4 separate regions of the Homo sapiens genome follow, and regions 2, 3 and 4 are each linked to region 1. The links come from fine-mapping of genetic effects on gene expression. A gene starts in region 1. Each other region holds a variant in brackets. All regions are shown on one strand. Distances are between the middles of the regions.

Region 1 (5,152 bases):
TTCACAGTTCTGGACGCCAGAAGAATGAGATCAGGGTGCCAGTGTGGTTGTGATGTGGGTGGGAAGGCCCTCTTCCAGTTGCAGACTGCCATCTTTTCTTTGTATCCTCAAGAGGCAGAAAGAGGGTGAGAGAGCTCTCTTGGGTTTCTTTTATAAGGGCATTTATTCCATCACCTCCCAAAGGCCCCACCTCCTAATACCATCACATTAGGGGTTAGGATTTCAACACATGAATTTGGGGGAGCACAAACATTCAGTCCACTGCAAATCGCTTGAGATTAAAATATCTTACTTTGGAAGCTTTTATAAAAATATAAGACCACATGAACATGTCTCTCAGGCTCCTTCTGTGTTGTTGGAAGAGGGCTGGAGTATAAGTTTCTTGGAATCTGCCTTTGGGTTTAGCTTTGGCCATATGCTTTAGAAGGAGCAGTCACAAACCTTGGCACATCTGTAGAAAGGAAGTAACCTAGGATGATGAAGGGTCAGGACACATTGCCATGTGTCCTGCATGACTTATGGGTCATGCAAAGATCTTGGAAAAGAGACAATTCAAGTGGTTCACAAGTTTGTCTTCAGTGCTTGGAGTACTCTCAGGTGGAAGAAATATTTCAACTCAATATAAGGGATCACTTCCTAATGTCAGGCCAGTTTCAATGCAGAATTGACCAGCTTGTAAAGTACTGAGTTCTCTTTAAGGGAATGGCTCCAGGAGAGGATAAGTGAGACCCGGTCAGAGATCTTGTGAAGGAGAGTGGTGGTGATGACGAACGGGGAGTGCAGTGTGAAAGAACCTACCTAATCTTTACACACCTTTGCAAGTTTGAGATTTTTAGGATGACTTTGCTATTAATGTTCTTTGATGCCTTAGTCTCGGTTTTAATGGTCGATATGTAGAAAGTTTTAAAGGTAGTAGGGGCTGCTTTTAAAGTGAGAGAAAAATGTTTTTTAAGACCTAGGGCAGCAATAGTGATTCACTTTGCCTCTATTCATTTTTAGGGTTCTTCTTTCTCCCTCCTTTCCTCCCTTCCTCCCTTCCTCCTCTTTTCTTTTCTTTCTTTTTCTGTTTTTCTTTTCTTTCTTTCTTTTTCCTCCTCCTCCTCCTTCTTCTTCCTCTTCCTCTTCTTTTTTGACAAGGTGACAGGGTCTTGCTCTGTCTTCAAGCTGGAGTGCAGTGGTGCAATCACAGCTCATTGCAGTCTTGAAATCCTGGGCTCAACTGATCTTCCTGCCTCAGCCTCCAGAGTAACTGCGATTACAGGTTCAGGCCACCATGCCTGGCTATTTTTATTTTTATTTCTTTCTTTATTTAATGTATTATACTTTAAGTTCTGGGATATATGTGCAGAACGTGGAGGTTTGTTACATAGGTATACACGTGCCATGGTGGTTTGCTGCACCCATCAACCCATCATCTACATTAGGTATTTCTCCTAATGAGATCCCTCCCCTAGCCCCACAACCCCCGATAGGCCCCTCCTCCCTGATGTGATGTTCTCCTCCCTGTGTTCATGTGTTCTCATTGTTCAGCTCCCACTTATGAGTGAGAAAACGCAGTGTTTGGTTTTCTGTTCCTGTGTTAGTGGGGTCTCACTATGTTGCCCAGATTGGTCTTAAACTCCTGGCTTCAAGAGATCCTCCTGCCTCAGGCATGATTACAGGTGTGAGCCACTGCACCTGGCCCATTTTGACTAGAATGTAACATAGTGGTTAATCAACACAAAGAAGCTAAGGATTGCAGGTGTGGGGTTGCTGGATTTGAGTAAGTTGTGAAGGAGAACATCATGTGGGAACAAACCTCTAGGATCCCTGTTCTTCCAGCAAGAACTGGAATTGGGCCTTTTGTGGGGTGGGGCTCTTTGATTCTGTGGAGGATCCTAACAGTGATGCCTGGGCTGATAGATCCAGGGGACTAAGAAGTCAGGGCTCCTCTGAGACATGTGACAAAACACAGCTGACACTGACTTGAAATAAAAGAGAGAGGATTTATTGGCTTCAAGGGTAGAGTTCACTGCAGACACATCTACCTCCTGAGGTTCCTGAGAGGGTGGGACATCACCCTCTCACCAGCAGCTTTTCTTCCCTCAAAGTTGGCTTCATTGGCATGCACTGTTGGTCCTTGTTACCGTAGGCTTATATCCTTCCAATTTAGTTATCCTAGTTTAAAGAGCTTATTTTTCTGCAGTAATACATCCAAAGCCCTAGGCCGAGTTCCTGGATCAACATGCCCAACCCAGAACCGATCACTGCGGTCCGGAAGATGACTGGCTAGTTCTGGGGGTTGAGGGTGGGAGGTGTCAGTACCCTGGAGCCACAAAGACTCATTGTGGGTGAGGGGGAAGGGCAGTTCCCATAGGAATAATGAACTGCTGTTACCAGAAAAGGCGGAGAAATGGATAATATTGAGCACACACTCAAAAGTCCCAAAGGAATGGCTATCCATTATTTGGGGACTTACTCCATATGGATATAGTTAAATTGTAAAATTGAATAAATCTTCCCTAAATCTGGACAGATGCAAGGGTGGGTGGGGAGGGACACAATATATTTACACTTTAGCATTTTTACTTTTTCTCCTACGTGGGACTGGTTGATGAAGATGCTATAGAAGTAAACAGAAAGCCGAAAGTATTAATACAGTAATTTTAAATTTTAGTGCCCTCTTTAGGCAAAGTATCTGGGAACGCTTTCAATAATCCATTTTTTCATCGTGACCACACCCTGTGTGTGCGACATGAGTATTACCGTCTTGCCCTTGCAGTTGGGGAAACCGAGGCATGACACTCCCCTATTCAGCTTTCTGGTGGGGTTGAGGAACAGTGTTGTCTGCACGACCTCAGAGGGTCTCCTCCACCCTCCGCGACACCTCTAGGAATCCTCCTGTCCTTCGACTTCGCAGAAGGAGAGCAACTCAGGCTCCGCCGCAGCCTCGGGACTCGTCCTCCGCCCAGCCGCACCCGCCCCGTTCTTCCGCACCTTCCTCAGGGAGGTCCCGCTGGCCAAGGTCTGGCTGTCCCTCCTGTCCTCTGCCCCCGCCTCCCTTCCACCGGTCCCCGACGTGCCGCCAGCTCCCAGCCCAGCGTCCCGCAGGGCGGTGCGGGCAGATGCCGCCGAAGCGTCTAGCGGGAAGGGCGCCGGCGCGGCTGGAGGTGAGGAGGCCGGACTCTTCGCTCTCCGCGGACCGGGGCACCGCGGCTGGAGCGGACGCCCGGCACCCGGGCGGGAGGAAGGTGGCGGCAGGGAGCGGCGAGAGGGTGGCGACGCAGGCGGGTCGGCGCCTGGAGAGCGAGCGGCGGGGAGCCGGGCGCTGCGGGGCCGCTCGGGGCCGCGCCGCGCTCGGCCACAAACCTCCCGGAGGCGCAGGACCCCCGGCGCCCTCCCGAGCGCGGGCGGGAGCCATGGCTTCGCGCGTCCCCGCTGCCGCTGCTGACTCGACACAATCGGCGGGTCGCGCGGGGGCCGTGGCGTAACCCGGGGGTGGGTGGCGGCGCGGAGCCGCCTCGAGAGCTCTGGGTGTCGCTGGGAGCTAGGAAGATGCCAGCACAAAGGCGAGCCGAGACCCAGCCCGCTGCGGAGGGCGGCGGGAAGAGCCGCTGAGGGGCGCGCCGAGCGCGCTCTGCCCCTGCGCCGCGTCTCTCCGGGCGCTTCTCGCGGTCTCGGGGTCGGGGACTGCAGCGCAGAGACTCTCGGCTCCGTGGCAGCGGCCGCAGCAGCCGTGAGCTGCATGCAACGCGCGGCGGCGCCCCCGGCCGCCTGCTTTCTCCTCGGCGCGCACGGACCGGCCGCAGGGCGCCGGGGCCGCGGGTCCGGGCGACTTTGGGGGCGCCCTCCCGCCCCGCGGCCGGGTCCCCACCCGCAGCTTGTGGCGACGGGCGCAAAGCCCAGGTGAGCGCGCGGCCCTCGCCGCAGGTAGCGGACGGCGGGAGGTGGCTTTGTTTTTCCTCCCTTGCGCCCCGGCGCGGTCATTCATTTGCCATTTCGGTTTCCGCTGCCCAGGATGTGTTGGATGGTTTGGTTCTCCAGGGAAACTGGGACTTTGGGGTCTATTTGAGCATCAGTTGAGGGAGAGGACGCTTCATTTCCTTTTTGGTTGGGAATGTGCCGTGAACATCCTCTGCTGGAGCTTGGGGCCTGGAGCAAACTGGGGCTGCAGATTTAGACGTAGACGTTTCCGAGGACGCGAGACTGCAGAGGTCTGACTCTCTCATGCCTTGTCTTCACTATTAGCAGCGCTCGGGTGCTTTTCGTCGTTTATTATTATTAATTTAGAGAACATCTTTACAGGCACATTTCTTTTAGAGTTAGAAGTCTTTGGAGTCAGTACAGAGAGCTCACAATTAGAGTTACAAGGGTTCAATCGATATTAAACTTCAGGAAGGAAAACATTTGTGATCATTACAGATAGAGGTGGACAGCATGCAAACTTCGGGGGCCTTTAGCTTTTGGGTTATGATTTCTGCTTTCACTGTCCTAGACTCACGCAAACTGTTTTCGTATATATATACCTTTGTGAAAGTGTGAAACTTGTCTTTTCTGGAGTAGTGTTCTATAGTTTGTCATTTAGAAGAAGAATATTTTAGTGTAATTAGTAGAGCTCTCCATGTGTTTGTCTTATAAATATGATTTTCTTTTTACTATTTCTCCTATTCCCTCGAGGGTTCATTTCTTCTGTTGCTTTGAGAGAGCTTTTTTTCTTTCTCTTCCCAACAGATGGCTGTATGTTCCAAGAGGTTATCTTTAAAATGACACACACATTATCTACAAAGAAAGAAAGATCAGTTATTGACTTTATCTTTGGAGTTATTAAAATAAAAGGCCTAATCTGGATGGGGATATTATTAATGGCGTGAAAATCTGGAGTTTGCTAATCTGTTTGGTCATCAGAAGATTCCTGCGGGGATTGTTTATATAGCGTGGGAGACAGATGGCATCCCTAGCAGACTAGAGAAGCCAGGCATAAAGGGTCATTGTATTCTTCAGAAATTATCCACTTCACTATTAGAGGTGGGGTAGGGTGGGGTGGAGGGTGGCAAAGACATTTTGATCTCTTAAAGGAGACACTGTAACGTTACTATCCAGCAGTCTAACCAGCTTTAATTTTTCTTTTTGTTGAACATTCAAAAAGTCCCAATTGAGCTATTTGTTTTGATTA
Region 2 (5,152 bases), 350 kb after region 1:
GTGTGGCCCTGAGCTCTCACCCCAATTCCAGCCCTGTATTTTTCAGTCTCTAGGGCATTTTGTTAGCTGTCATATCCAAGTCAATATGTATAAAGTTTCACATGCCCTTGTCCACCTGCATCACTTCCCACACTCTTCATAGCATCAGGTAGATAGACTTGGCTCAAATCCCAAATCTACTGTCACTGGAATATGACTTGGACAGGAAACTGCACCTTCATTTTCTTTAGTTGCAAAGTGGTGTGTGATGGTCCTAGTAATACCCGCTTCGTAGACTTGTGAGGATTTCTCAAGATCCCCTGTGTAACGTGCATCATCTGTAATGTACAGCAGGCGCTTAACAAGTAAGACCTGTTGTTATTGTTTAAATACACTTTATATTATCATCATGCTTCCCATTCTTCTTTCTTGCTTATCTATTCTTTTCCCAGTGCATATTTCACATTGTAGATGTTTCTCTGAGTCACTCACTCCAGTCTAGTCCTTATCCCCTCAGGCTTCAATTACTGCAACAACTCCTAACTGGGGCTCTTTCCTCTTGCCCACCCTTAATTTACTCAACACACTCTGAAAATAATTTCTTAAATAAAACACCATTTGTATGTTATTCTTCTGCTCAAGAACCTATAAAGGCACTGTTCACTGCATCATGCCCAAACTCCTCTGCTAGGTTTTAAAAATTCTTGTCATAATTTGGCTCCAACCCTTCTGATCAATTTCATTTCCCATTTACTCCCAGCACTCCTCCTCCACTCTAGGCTAGCTTGGTTCTCTTGGTGTCTTCTGAACACACATGCAGTGCTCATGCCAGCTGTTGCTGCTGTGTTCCACTTTAGGATATAAATTCTCCTTCTTTTGCAAGGTGTGGTTCCAATTAAGCTTCCTCCCTAAGGCCTTTTCCACTTTGATCTCTACTTATACTCATTTCTTTTTTATAACATTACTATTACTTTTGTGTAACACTGATCTTAACAAATGCTTGCGGGGCTTGGGGGGCAGGCAGCCATGTCATTGAGTGGCTGCCGCAAAGTGGTGAGCTCATGCCTCGTCTAACAGAGTAGCTGCAGCTGCCCGCTGGATCCCCAAGGAAATGCAAGCCAGTCATTGCAAGATTTCCCAAATAATTTTCAAGAGAAAAATCTGGAATTTTTAAATTTGAAATTTAATTTGTAAATGTTGGCAATTAATTTAAAATATTCAAAAAAGATTATGGGGCAAGCAACTGGGATCTATAGGACTAGGTATAGCCCCAGGGGTATAGCTTTGTTTCCTCTGCTTTCTAGTCTGTATACCTAGTTCAGGACTTAATTATTCTCTAATTGTTTGATGTTTTATTTCTGTTTCCCCAACCCACTCCAGCAACCCCACCTTACTCATTTTGGACATCCATTGGTGAACCTAACATAGTATTCCCAATGAATAACAACTATTTAGTTCACTCATTTGTTAGAGACATTTTTAATGAACTTACATGGTATGTAATGAACAAGACTTCCCAGCTTTTGTTTTCTGGTTTCTTTCATTGGTTGGGAAATATTTAGTGGAAATATCCAGTGTTTTTGTCATGGCTCTGTGTCTGATTTCCATATTCATCATCAGTTTTCTATCCCAACCTGCTGCTTGTGTTACCCAGTGACACAAAACCAGATTTTTCTATGGAAAGAGGAACAATTGGCTGGGCATGGTGGCTCACGCCTGTAATCCCAGCACTTTGGAAGGCCGAGGTGGGCGGATCACCTGAGGTCAGGAGTTCGAGACCAGCCTGACCAACATGGAGAAACCACGTCCCTGCTAAAAATACAAAATTAGCTGGGCGTGGAGGTGCAAGACTGTAGTCCCAGCTACTCGGGAGGCTGAGGCAGGAGAATCGCTTGAACTCAGGAGACAGAGGTTGGGTTAGCCGAGATCACACCATTGCACTCCAGCCTGGGCAACAAGAGCAAAACTCCGTGTCAAAAAAAAGGAAAGAGAAACAATGTTACTTTTACATATTATTAGTGATAATTACCATTGAATAACGTATAAAATATGCTTATATAATCTAGATATTCTCAGTACTTGGCACATGTTAAGAATGCAATAAATGGTCTGGCGCAGTGGCTCACACCAGTAATCCCAGCACTTTGGGAGGCCAAGGCAGGTGGATTACCTGAGGTCGGGAGTTCAAGACCAGCCTGACCAACATGGAGAAACCATGACCCTACTAAAAATACAAAATTAGTCGGGCGTGGTGGCACATGCCTGCAATCCCAGCTACTCAGTAGGCTGAGGCAGGACAATCACTTGAACCCGGGAGATGGAGGTTGCGGTGAGCTGAGATTGTGCCATTGCACTCCAGCCTGGGCAACAAGAGCGAAACTCCGTCTCAAAAAAAAAAAAAGAATCCAATAAATATTAATATTATTTATTCTTTGTGCAAGTGCGCACTTTGTGCAAGTGAGACAGGTGCCTTTTGCAATTATGTGTTATATTAAGATTTTACCCTGCAATATGAGATTTATGTAATTATGTGTCTAAAATCATTCTTGGTGATAGTGCATATCTAAAAGAAGTTTTGTAGGCCAGGTGCGGTGGCTCACACCTGTAATCCCAGCAATTTGGGAGGCTGAGGTGGGTGGATCACCTGAGGTCAGGAGTTCCAGACCAGCCTGGCCAACATGGCAAAACCCTGTCTCTACTAAAAATACAAAAATTAGCTGGGCATGGTGGCAGGCACCTGTAATCTCAGCTATTTGGGAGGCTGAAACAGGAGAATCACTTGAACCCAGGAGGCGGAGGGTGCAGTGAGCCAAGATTGCACCACTGCACTCCAGCCTGCTGGGTGACAGAGTAAGACTCCGTCTCAAAAAAAAAAAAAAAAAAAAAAAAAGTTTCATGAGGAGT[T/C]TTTTGGTGAGGAATTTAGAGTGAATGATTAAAACCTCACTCTTGGTGCCACTTACTTATATACCATGTACTTTCCATTGCAACTTCCTGTCTAATTGCCATGATATCATTTCAGCAGCAAGCAAAGACATTTCATCCTAACAGTTACTACTAGACATGAGTAACTCTGTTTGACTCATATTAGTTTCGACTGAAAAGGGGAACATACTTGAGAAACACATGGGCACCATTGTAACTATTCAAACAGAATTTTTATTCTCAACCAAAATGCCACAAAGAGGACGTCACTTAAGACCTTGGTTGAGGTTTGTTATATCCTTCAACTTGCAGAAATCAAAAATGCAGAAGTTAAGACAGTTGCCTCATTTGACTTGTTGATTGTGATAGCTTTTGTCCATGGTGATGTGATGAACATAAGGACGAGGCACAAATCCAGATTGTCCTCTCTTTGTGGTTTGCTGCAGGTACCCAGCGTGCCAATGCCCGGGCTCCAGCCCCTTACAAGCGGGATTTCGAAGCCAAACTGAGGAACTTTTACAGGAAGTTAGAGACTAAAGGATATGGACAAGGCCCAGGGAAGTTAAAGTAAGTCAAAGTGACACAAACCACATAATGTATAGATGGTGAAAGGAGAGGGCACAGTTGGGCCTCTAGGAAATTGATTGTGATTTGGGATGACTAGCCTTCATTTTAGTCGGCATAATTATTTTGGAATTTGTAAATTATAGGATCATCTAAAACATAGTCCTGGAATGAAACATGATTAAGCTTAACATTTTAAAACAAATAGTGAAGACACTGCCACTTTTCATGCAAAAATAAAGGCAAAATAAAAGGCTGATTTATTTTTTTCCTCTGAAAAGTATGTCTTTGTTGGTGCATAGTATATTCATTAGCTATAAAGCTATCCCAATGTCCTCCACTGCAAGTTTCTGTCTCCTGAACTGACCTGAGTGTAGGAATAGTGCTCAGCTCTGTTCAGTTCTGTGAAACAAACTTCACAGCAGAACATGTCATGAATGTTGTTTCGGCCTTTCTTCATCCATCTCCTCCTTTCAAATGGGGAAACTGAAACATCATCATGTTGTTTGGCCTAGAATTGTTTCCATTCCCTACTTACCCTTCTTTCTCTCCTCCCTGCCTTCACCCCTGTCCCACGTCCCCACTGGAGATCAGTCTGCCACTGAGAGAGGACAGAGGAGGGACGGTCTCCACTGGAGCACCCCTGTGACCCTGGGTGCCTGAGAGACGGTCCAGAGACCAGACCAACAGCAGCCCCATGGCTCACTGCCCCACCTGCAGGAAGGCTTGCTTGATTAAAATCCACCTTCATTGCCCTAAAAAATCATCTGCCTGCCCAAACACCATACTTCTCTGAGCTTTACTTTTCTCACACTTAACTTACAAAGGTCTAGGATGATCCAGCTGTCATGCATTCAGCCTCCCTATCATCTCTCTGCCCATTACCATTTACATTAAGAGCAAATTGATATCTATGGAAGGATGACTTTAATTGGCATCATCACAAGTAGATTAACCTGCCACACTCATCATTCATTTGTATCTGTCCCTTAGGGACTGTCAAGATTCACTTAATTTAACAATTAACAATTGGAAACTCCTCTGCTTTGGAGGATATTGAGAATTTTTTTTTTCCTCTTTGTTCTCACAGTCATCTTGCTGGGCACTTAATAATTGAATTCCTTGTCTACATGCATTGAGACTTAAAACATTGCCTCATAGAGTTGTTCTTGCTTTACTAAACAAAATGTATGGGCGGGGGGCGGTGTGTGTGGTGTGTGTGGTGTTGTTTTATGATCATTTTTTTTCTGGGATAAACTGATTTGACCATTTAGATAGGATTCTCCGGTTGTTTACACTGGTCATAGGTAGGGTACTCTACCAATGATTCTCTCATGTAACTTTTGCTAATGCTATTAAGAGTTCAAGACAAATGTGTACTTTATTGCAGACAGCAATGATATTAAGTAACATTCTTCTTACCTAGTTAATTGTGGCAAATGGAAATGTTCTAGAAAGATAAGTAAATTATCTTTAATAGTATAGTAATAATTTGTATTTTCTAAATTGTCTCTTTATGGACAGGTTAATTATCCGAAGAGATCACTTACTAGAAGATGCTTTTAATCAGATTATGGGCTACTCCAGAAAAGACCTGCAGAGAAATAAGCTATATGTCACCTTCGTTGGGGAGGAAGGGTGAGTAGAACAGAGAAGTGGCCTGTGGAACATAGGCTGTGGCCACAAG
Region 3 (5,152 bases), 390 kb after region 1:
TCCAAGTGCACCTTAACCAAAGTGACCTAATGAGACTTTGGAATAAGACATTAATTAGTGAATAGATTAATTCCCCTCACCCGTCTATAGATACTCCTCATGGCTTTACTAAGTGCCGAACCTTGTGGGAGATATACGTTGACCTTAAAACACAGGGAGAGAAGCAATGGATATTTACATGAACAGATAACCAACATCATTGGTCCCAAAATGGAACATGACCAATGAGTAGTTGGAATAGCAAGCACCATAGAATTTCTTTCCATGAATTCACCTTTACCGAACACCTGGTGAAGGTCAGGGCATTGTGCTCTGCTGCCATAAGTTACACACATATTTGTGCCCTACTCTTAATAGGAATTTCTGCTCTAAACCTCATGGCCTAAGAAGGTATTCATGAGGATATTAGATAAATTATGAATATTTTAAAAATTCTAACAAGTTTTACCATTAGTTGTGTTAATAAAGCTACCCAGGCTAACAAAACTATAACTGGATTCCTTTAATGGAATTCGATCACTCTATTTAATTGGTAACTTTGGATTTCTCATGCTGATTTCACGCCCTTGAATTCATCATCTGTCCCTCTACCCATTTCCTATATTCCCTGCCTTATTTAAAGATACCTCTGCCAACCCACTTTTCTTTCTTTCATCCATGAAATAACTGGAAAAGGTTTTTGCAAGAACACTCCTGGCTTCCTGATGTGTCCCTGCCTCCCCATCTGGCCTCAGGTCCAACCTTGCCTCCTGTCCCTTAGGCGCTTGCCCCTCTCAGGTTTCCTGATGATGCAATGTCATGTTCCATCTGCTGGGAACATCCTTCTCCTTGTTGTTGATTCAGAGAAAACCTGCACACCTACAAATCTTTCAAGCCTTGGCACAGATAGTGTCCTCTATGAACCTTCCTTGGCTCTGCTGAGCAAACTTGTAACTCATAGTATTATTAACTGTTTGTATGCAGGGCCACTAATAGCCCATCTTTGGGACTAATGAAACAAAGGTGTCTCCTAGCCTTTTGGAGAAATGCAGCCTGCAGCTAGGGCTCACAATTTGGCAAGCAGAGCCAAAGGAAGGCTGGATTTCAGTTCCTGCTTGCCCCAGAGCACAGGATACACAAACTTTAGAGGGTCTTTTTGCCTGTATATTTTGCTGCCACAGTGTAAACTCCTTGAGGACAGAAACCAGACTTTTCATCCTCATCTCTCAGAGGACAGCTGAATCCCTGGCATGGAGTATATGCTTAGTAAGTACTTATTCAGCGAGTGAAGGAATAAATGAAATATAATGCAAATTGGAAAATTAAGTACATTCACATACAGAGAGAGAAATTAATCAACAAACCAATCTATGGAAATGGAAATGTAACTGATACTTTTGGCTCACTGGATTTATCTAATTGACTTGTCTATCTGTAGGGAAAAAGGGAGGGTAAGCATGTGACCTCCTGATTAACATTTTTGAAGAATCCAGAAAGCACCAAGAGATCTATTAAGTCAGACCAGATGTCTGGAGAATTTTTAAATCTTCTTAATATTGATGCCAGCATGATTTCCCAAAGATGGGTTCAGACCTGCTTTCCTTGAGTGGTTCTGGCTAAATAGATTAAAATGAGGTAAACCCATTATAGCTTTAGTGTGACTGGCTTTGAAAGATTTGAAAAATGTTCTTTTATTGAGACTGAATAGCTGGATGCACTTTTGCTGCCAACATCAACACAGTCCAGGGCCCTCCTGTTATTTTCTGCTAAAGTTTTCTTAGGACATGGAATGGGGTGGGAGTGGGGGTGTGAAAAGCCTCCAAGGATTATGTGTTGCTTGCCATTTTTTTTGTTTTTTTCCTGGCCTTGGCTCATAGAGCAAGTTGATGGTAAATATTGGGCAATTTATTTAACCACACTATTCCTCAATTTCCTTATTAGCAATGCTGTCTTGTTTATAAGGAGTTTTGAAATTTCTGCAAGCACATAAAACACTGGTGCAAATAGCCAATGTAGGTATCATGTTGCTAATCCACTTGATGCCTCTCCAATAGTGGAGACCACCTGCATCAGACTCACTTGGCATATTTATTAAAATGCATATTCCCCCAGGCCCACCCCAAACCTTCTGAATTA[C/A]AATCACAAGGGGTGCAACCAAAAATCTCCATTGTAAAACAAGCTCCTGGAGTGATTTTGATACACTCTAAAGTATCCTTTTGAGTATTTGCCTTCTTCTATTAAGCCTGAGATTGAGCTAGATGGTATGATCACCTAAAAATCCCCTGGTATTTTTCAGGGTTTTCTGGATTGACTCAATCTCAGCCATTTTCCCCAGAGCTACTGCATATTGTGATTGAATTATTCATTTAAAAAATATCTGAAGCTTTATTTTGCCAATCCTTGTCCTCAAAATGTGGATAATCTAGTAGGATGTTGAGGAATAATAGTTCGTAGTCAGAGGTAGGATAAAATTAATACTCAGGCTTCCAAAAGTAAAAGAATGAAGCCATGAGCATTAATCTCCCCGCTTTCAGTTTAATGTTGGACTTTCCCTAGGAGACCCAGAACTGAGGTCCTTTTCTTGATTTGGCCACTGACTCAGCTTTGACCTTGGGAAAACCATTTAATCTTTCCACACAGTTTCCCCCTCCACAATATATGCTTTCCCCATCATCGCGAAATATTTTCCAGAGGAGCTGTTTAGTTTATTAGAAGGAAAGTTGTGTTATGGTAACCATATATTATGCAACCAGATGTAATTTATGAAGCAGCAATAGCCTTAGATTATGGATTAGTAATGCTGATTATGTCTTACGACTGCAGAGGAACAAAAAAGGTTGTCTAGTCCTTCCCTTTGCCTTCCCTTTGTGTTGAGAACTGAAAAGAGTATTTAGGCTTGTGGATTTACTGGATAAGCTTCTAGAGTACCTGCAAAGATACTACAGAAATGGCAAAGAGACATTCAAAGTTCCTGTTTCTCTACTCAGAAACCTGGGAGAATGAAAGAACTGTTGCCAACCCCTAGCTTTGTTTCACCACCTGTCCTGGATAGATGATTCTACTGTATCACACTTAACATCACATTTGCCACCTTTTCTTGAACTGTTTCACTACCTTGAGACCTGTTACTGGTTCTACTGATGCAAAACAAATTACCACAAATTTAGCAGTGTAAAACAACACACATTTATGATCTCACTGTTTTCATGGAGCAGGCATCCAGGCACAGCTTAGCTGGGTCTTCTGCTCATGGTCTCACAAGGCTGAAATCAAGCTGTGGGTGGGGCTGCATTCTCATTTGGAGGACCAACTAGGGAAGAATCTGCTTCCAAGTTCCCTTGGGTTGTTGGCAGCATTCATTCCTTGCAGCTATAGAATTCATAGTAGCTTCCTTCTTCAAATTCAACAACAGTGAGAGTCTCTCTTGATTTTAATAAGAAATCCTAAGGCTTTAAAAGGTGAATGGACTTCATACCCATTACAATAGCTATTATAAAACAAACAAACAAACAAACAAAAAACAAGAAATAAGTGTTGGTGAGGATGTAGAGAAATTGGAACCCTTGTGCACTGTTGATGGAAATGTAAAATGTTGCAGCCACTATGAAAAATGCAATATGATGTTGCACTTCTGTGTATATCCCCCAAAAAATTGAAAAGGAGGACTTAAACAGATAATTGTACACTCATGTTCATAGGAGCATTATTTACAATAGCCAAACGGTAGGAAAAAAACTCCTGTTCATTAATGGATGAATGAATAAAGAAAATGTGGTATATACATACAATGGAACATTATTCAGCCTTAAAAAGGAAGGAAATTCTGACCCATGCTACAACATCAACCTTAAAATATGCTAAGTGAAATAAGCCAATCACAAAAGACAAATATTTTAAGATTCCACTTATATGAAGTACATAGGGTAGTGAAATTCATAGAGACACAAAGTAGAATGGTGGTTTCCAGGGGCTAGGGGGAGAGGAAATGGGAGTTACTATTTAATGGATACAGATTTCAGTTTTGCGAGATGCAGAAGTTCTGGAGATGGATAGTGATGATGGTTGCAAAATAACGTAGGTGTACTAATGCCATGGTACTGTGCACTTAAATATAGTTAAAATGGTAAATGTTATATTATGTATATTTTATCACAATAAAAATACTGAAAAGTTAATCGGGCAAGAGAGATGAACATATGGATCACAAAACAGGAAATGTAAAAAGCAAGAGGACATGGGGGAAAGATGCTCAACCTTATTGGTAACCAAAGAAATGAAAATTGTAAAATAGTATTGTGGTGTCATCTGTTAGTCTAATAGGATAATAAATGTTATTTGTCTGACACACACAGTTTGGCATAGAATTATATTCAAAACGTATTCTACTTTTCTGCTTCTTCCTCCCCTACCCCTGGAACAGAGATAAATCTTTATTTAATATTTTTATTCCAGTGTTTCACAGATGATAGATTATAAACCACTGCTAGGACTCTAGTGTAGTATACAAGTTGAATTTTTAAATAAGTAAAACCTTTTCTTGAGGCTCAATTTGCGTTCCAGTCTAAGGATATCAAATGCAATTCTGAAATGCTTATTGTATCAAAAAAGGGTTTGCCTGCAAAGATTCATTAGATGATTTCCACCAATATATCCCAGAGTTTACAGTACTAGGAGTGGGTGAGTCGGTACTATCTCTATACCCTAAAACTCATACAGTTGGAGTATCCCTAGTCAAAAAATTTTAAATCTAAAATGCTCCAAAATCCAAAACTTTTTGAGTGCCAACATGATGCCACAAGTAGAAAATTTCACAACTGACCTCATATGACAGGGTGCAGTCAAAAACGCGGTCAAAACTTTGTTTCATGAACCAAATTATGTAAATATGGTATAAAATTACCTTCAGTCTGTGTATACAAGGTGCATGTGAAACGTAAATGAATTTCATGTTTAGACTTGGGTCCCATTCCCCAAGATATCTCATTATATATATGCAAATATTCCAAATTCCAAAGAAATCTGAAATCCAAAGCACTTCTGGTGCCAAGCATTTTGGATAAGGAATACTCTATCTGTATTCTTACAATATAACAGATCCTGTTCACATTCCTGTTTTTAATAAGCCATGTGGCCACACACCTGCTTTATTATCCCTTTATTATCTCATCATTCT
Region 4 (5,152 bases), 370 kb after region 1:
TTTTTAATTGGCATTTATAGAATGGTGGCTGGGCACGGTGGCTCATGCCTGTAATCCCAGCACTTTGGGAGGCCAAGGCAGGAGGATCAGTTGAGCCTAGAAGTTCAGGACCAGCCTAGGCAACATGGTGAAACCCTATCTCTACAAAAAATACAAAAATTAGCCAGGTGTGGTGGCACATACCTGTAGTCCCAGCTACTCAGGAGGCCAAGGTGGGAGGGTCACCTGAGCTGGAGAGGTTGAGGCTGCAGTGAGCCTGGATCATGCCACTGCACTCTAGCCTGGGGGACGAGAGTGAGACCCTGTCTCAAAAAAGAAAAGAAAAATAAAGAGAACCAAAATTGATTTTTTTGAAGCTAAGGGAACATAAACAATGTTTTGGGGAAGACTTAAGAACAGAATATATTAATTTTTTTTTCAAAATTGGTGGAAGAGTAGGGAAAACGTTTCTTCCAGAAATTATATACCAGTTTATAATTAATATTCTTATTTAGGCATTAATCTTTAGCTGCTTTTCTGCATTCCATGTGTTTTGAAAAAGTTCTCAATTTAACATTCACTTGAGTGTAATTCTGCTTTAAAGTAAATCTTTACGCTAGATATAGTCAATTCTGAGAAATTTGTGAAAATGGGTTTTGTCAAACATTCAAATAGTAGCAGGCTAGTATCTGAAGCCGATTCATCGGCATTTTAAAACTTAACCTGTAGTAACAGCAATACATATATATACTTTAATCACCAAAGCTTTCAAGCACCCCCTCAATGCCTATTTTTTCCTGAGTGTGTGTGCTCCGTGAGTGCCTGGGGCCTCACTGCCAGCTTGTGGGATGTGCCTAGGGCAGGGCTGGGACAGGTAGCTGGCTGATTTCAGCTCAATGCTAGTAATGTTGTTATAACATTAAGAGTATTGCTTTGTAGTCATTCTTTTTATTTTGTAATCTCAGATAACTGAACGAGAATTAAAGCCAGGGGGTGCCAATATCCCAGTTACAGAGAAGAACAAGAAGGAGTACATCGAGAGGATGGTGAAGTGGAGGATTGAGAGGGGTGTTGTACAGCAAACAGAGAGCTTAGTGCGTGGCTTCTATGAGGTAAAGACAATCAGCAGTAGGAGGAGTTTGCAGTCTGATATCAATGATGCCACAGTCCATCTTATTGTACTTTACATGTGTAGACTATTTCTGCTGTATTTACTGTTGCTCTTTCCATGCGAAAAGTTCAGTATTTTTTCCCTTATGTTTCAAGAGCACCAAAAGAAGCTTAACTCACTGTTACGAGAGATCACTGAAATAAATGTTATGGACTGCATTCAAGTAGCATTTGTTGATTTAATGACCACTAGTAACATTTAAGCCATGCATCTTATGCTTAGATATGGGTAATCAAATCTCATGCTTGCTATGTGAAATAATTATATCTGAGATCAGAATGAGTTGGCATGTATTGTATGTGACTTTTTCTGTAGAAACACTAGATAGTTTCCTAAAGGTGGACGGGACCTAGATTAATCAGCAATCAATTATAAAACAAAAATTCTGTCAAGGCAAATCTCATCAACCTTATACTAAAGAATGCCTTATATTTGTAGGGAGCTTTACAGGTTTTCAAGTGCCAACACAAGGTACACACATATTATTCCTGAAACTCCATGTGTCCCCTTTTCTAAGGCTTAATTATAGCTGATATTTCTCCAGGCTCCTAAGCCATGCCTTGTACTCTTTTTATTCCACAGGTGGTGGATGCCAGGCTGGTATCTGTTTTTGATGCAAGAGAACTGGAATTGGTCATCGCAGGCACAGCTGAAATAGACCTAAGTGATTGGAGAAACAACACAGAATATAGAGGAGGTGAAATTTGATTTATAGATGGCTAGATTTTAAATTTCAAATTAAAGGAAGGCATGGTTCAGCTTGCCAACTGAATATAGGACAGGCAACAGCACTTGGACTCTAATCATAGGTCTGATGCAGGCTCCCTTGAGACCTTGGGCAAGGTACATTCTCTTCTTTTCCTAATTACCTCATCTGTCAGATGGGAGAAGGACTGTTTACACACCGTCAAAGGATGTCATAACTCTTAATTGTTGGTGAGGAAATGTGACCGTAAGAACACTAATTAATTACTTTATCGTGTTGTCAGTGAAGCACCAAGGAGCTAACATCCAGCTGGTCAAACTCCACCTATTCCATTTTGTTTCTAAAACTTAGAAAAGCACACCCTTTGAGCTTCCCAATCAGCACAGTTTTTCCACTGTTCACTACGCTCCTTATCAGTTGTAATTCATAGTCAGAACACTTGAATGGAATAAGACACAGTTCCCAAAATACAACATTATTGGAGAAGTTCTAAATTCAAGCATGAATTTCAAGTGAAAAGAAGACTGTAGTAAGATTAATTAAAAACTGCACTATCTGACACTTCACAAAATGGGAAGCTAAAAAAGTGACACTTCTGCAGATCAGTACAAATTATTGATTAGTAACTGGGACCAAAGCCATTGAAATTTGAGTGTTAAACCAACACTTTGCAAGGGACCTGGTGGTAACCCAGAGTTAAGGTTTTATTAAATAATTTTAAGCAAAGAATACATTTTCTGAAAATTATCACCATGTTAGGAAGCCTTCAGAAATTCATGACAAATACCAGTTGTTTTCTCCTTTGGGTTTTGTTTTTTAACTCAAAGTATAAGAGATTAGAAGTAGTTCTGAACTTGGAGAATGAAAACTACAAACCTAACATCACTGAATTAATCACTTAGCAGAGTAAATTGAGAGCTGAACAGTTCTCTAGTTATCTCTAAGTTGAAGCAGAGATTTTTTTTAAAAAAGGTAGTTTTAAAAGTTTGTAGTAAAAAAATGCCTTAACATTTGCTAAATTGCTTTTGGTTATGCCTGTGCTTGCCTGTTCCAGCTCATCCCTGCACCATGGGCTGGCCTTGCTCACACATTTAATCTGAAAGGCTGTATTTAATTGCAGTTTCCATTGCTTCTATTTCTGAAGTCCAATTGCTGAAATAAGTATTTTCCAGTTGGCCCAAGTATAATCCATGTATCTCTTTGGTTATTATAATGTTGTTAACCCATC[G/A]ATTTTTACTGAGAGCACAATTTCTCTGACATGCTACATAAGTTATATTTTACCATAAATATTATTAGCTCATTCTTTCCTTCCAGGAGATGAATTTTTTTTTTCAGACAGAGGGTGTATGCCACCATACCTGGCTAATTTTTGTATTTTTAGTAGAGATGGGGTTTCACCATGTTGGCCAGTCTGGTCTCGAATTCCTGGCCTCAAGCGATCTCCTGCCTTGGCCTCCCAAAGTGCTGGGATTACATGTGTAAGCCACCACGCCCGGACCCAGGAGATTCTAATAGCAATGCATTAATAGAATCAGCCATTTTTGTATTTTCATGGCATAAAATTTTATTCACTAAATCTGACTAATCAAGGACCTATTTATATGGTTATTGTAAATCTTATCAAATGAAATCTTTGGGAGGGGGAAGAAAAATGCTGAGAACCTCAGCTGCCATGTTTGCTCACCCAGCTACTTGGCACTGAGTAAAGAAGCGGCTGTGTGGCTGCCACCTGCCATATGTTCACACCCCAGCTGCTAGGAGAGAATATGATGAGACACATTCACTCTTCTTCCTCCAAAAGGTTTGGCACAAATAGCAAAAGGGAAGCAGAAAAGGGCTAATTCATAAGGTCAAAAAACTTTAAAGCTACAAAGAGCCAGTGCACTTCTTTTGTAGATGAGAAACTTTGCTCAGTACCAAATTGCTAGTCTTCACCAAACTCTGGGCATGGCCCATGTGTCCTCATGTTCAATCCAGTTTTGATCAGCCTTCTCTTTGATCCTTTTTTTCTCCAAAGGGGACTAAACATCACTGAAATGGTAAACAGTAAGGTGAGATTCCTCCCAAATCCTACAACTACTGAAATGTGAGGAAAAATTTGGATTAAAATAATTTCTACCCGCCTTCTATTCTGGACTACTAACTCAGTGCCCATTAACTATGTCTATTCATTGGTTTGAATCACTAAATCCTTGTTAGCCTTTTCTCTGAATTTAATTTTTGTTTTCACTGAAAGGTTTTTGGAATCCATCATCACTGCCCATGAGGTGATTCCTTTGACATTTTCTTAAATTCTACTAAAGTATGGAATAAGAGTAAAATTAAGTTGGTGATTACTCAGGATTTATTTAAGGAACTAAAGGTCACTTTTCCCTTTTTATTAGTAAGTCAATGTGAAACTAAGTTGATTTTAAAGTATGAATATTATATATAGCTTTTAAGAGAGCTTGCAGTTATGTATTTGTTTGTATAAATTATTTGATTAATGTGTCTCCCCTCTGCCAGAAGCCCTGGGAGGGTCTGTTTTCTTTGCCATTATGCCCCCAACCTTGGTACAGTGCTTGGCATAGAGGTATTTGAAAATTATTTCTTATGTGAATGACCGAAAGAGTTAAGTATTTCCAGTAACAACTGTTGTATTTTACAGAAATGATATGGTTAAAATAACTCATTTGTTGTTCTTCTCTTTACTAGTTTCACTTAGTGACCGTTAAATGAAAACAGAGACCTCTTGGTTTCACTTAATGTTGTTTTTGTTTAACTTTTGACATTCATATGATCATATATACAGTGTTATTCCTTAGTCTTAAAATTATAGACAACTTGTAAAGAATTCAAGAGGATGATTTATGTCTGGGGACTCTTCGTGTCACGTATCTTGGTGGCTTAATATAGAAGAGTCAAAGTAACATGGGCTTTTATGATTGGTTTGATAGGATACCATGACAATCATATTGTAATTCGGTGGTTCTGGGCTGCAGTGGAAAGATTCAACAATGAACAACGACTAAGGTTGTTACAGGTGAGATGCCATTATTTAATCTTTTAAATGTATCAATATGATTATTGTTGGAAGTGTATGTTTTTAATAACTGCTAACTATTCTCCATAAACACATACCATGTGTATCTGGAAATATGAGATACACCATTTCCAGACTCCTGATTGCATGGTTATGTGACTCCATGGCTATTCAGAACTTCCCTAAGCCAACTTAAAGCATTTCATGAGAGTTTAGGGAAGTGTCAAGTCCAGTCCAAGAATCCCAGTAACAACATCTGCCTTCAGGACAGCTT

The links. PIP is the estimated chance that this variant, and not a neighbour inherited with it, causes the effect.
Region 2: its variant is the best candidate, but not a certain one, in a credible set for the expression of HECW2 in blood mononuclear cells (TOPMed, PIP 0.61).
Region 3: its variant is the best candidate, but not a certain one, in a credible set for the expression of HECW2 in whole blood (TOPMed, PIP 0.56).
Region 4: its variant is the best candidate, but not a certain one, in a credible set for the expression of HECW2 in whole blood (INTERVAL, PIP 0.89).

The regions. Positions count from the first base shown.
Region 1 is chr2:196,591,505-196,596,656 of GRCh38, reverse strand. HECW2 (HECT, C2 and WW domain containing E3 ubiquitin protein ligase 2) reads left to right here and starts at 3,103. Exons shown (of 29, transcript NM_001348768.2): 1 at 3,103-3,149. RefSeq lists silencers at 3,145-3,414, 3,495-3,874.
Region 2 is chr2:196,240,400-196,245,551 of GRCh38, reverse strand. HECW2 (HECT, C2 and WW domain containing E3 ubiquitin protein ligase 2) reads left to right here. Exons shown (of 29, transcript NM_001348768.2): 20 at 3,348-3,468; 21 at 4,990-5,103. Among named protein-coding and RNA genes, the nearest start is that of HECW2-AS1, 17 kb to the left of the region's middle. RefSeq lists an enhancer at 4,294-4,343. The variant T/C (reference allele first, on the strand shown) is at 2,884.
Region 3 is chr2:196,202,682-196,207,833 of GRCh38, reverse strand. The region is part of intron 28 of HECW2 (HECT, C2 and WW domain containing E3 ubiquitin protein ligase 2); the gene reads left to right. Among named protein-coding and RNA genes, the nearest start is that of STK17B, 34 kb to the right of the region's middle. The variant C/A (reference allele first, on the strand shown) is at 2,116.
Region 4 is chr2:196,216,734-196,221,885 of GRCh38, reverse strand. HECW2 (HECT, C2 and WW domain containing E3 ubiquitin protein ligase 2) reads left to right here. Exons shown (of 29, transcript NM_001348768.2): 25 at 945-1,091; 26 at 1,733-1,847; 27 at 4,793-4,878. Among named protein-coding and RNA genes, the nearest start is that of HECW2-AS1, 41 kb to the left of the region's middle. RefSeq lists a silencer at 2,134-2,334. The variant G/A (reference allele first, on the strand shown) is at 3,085.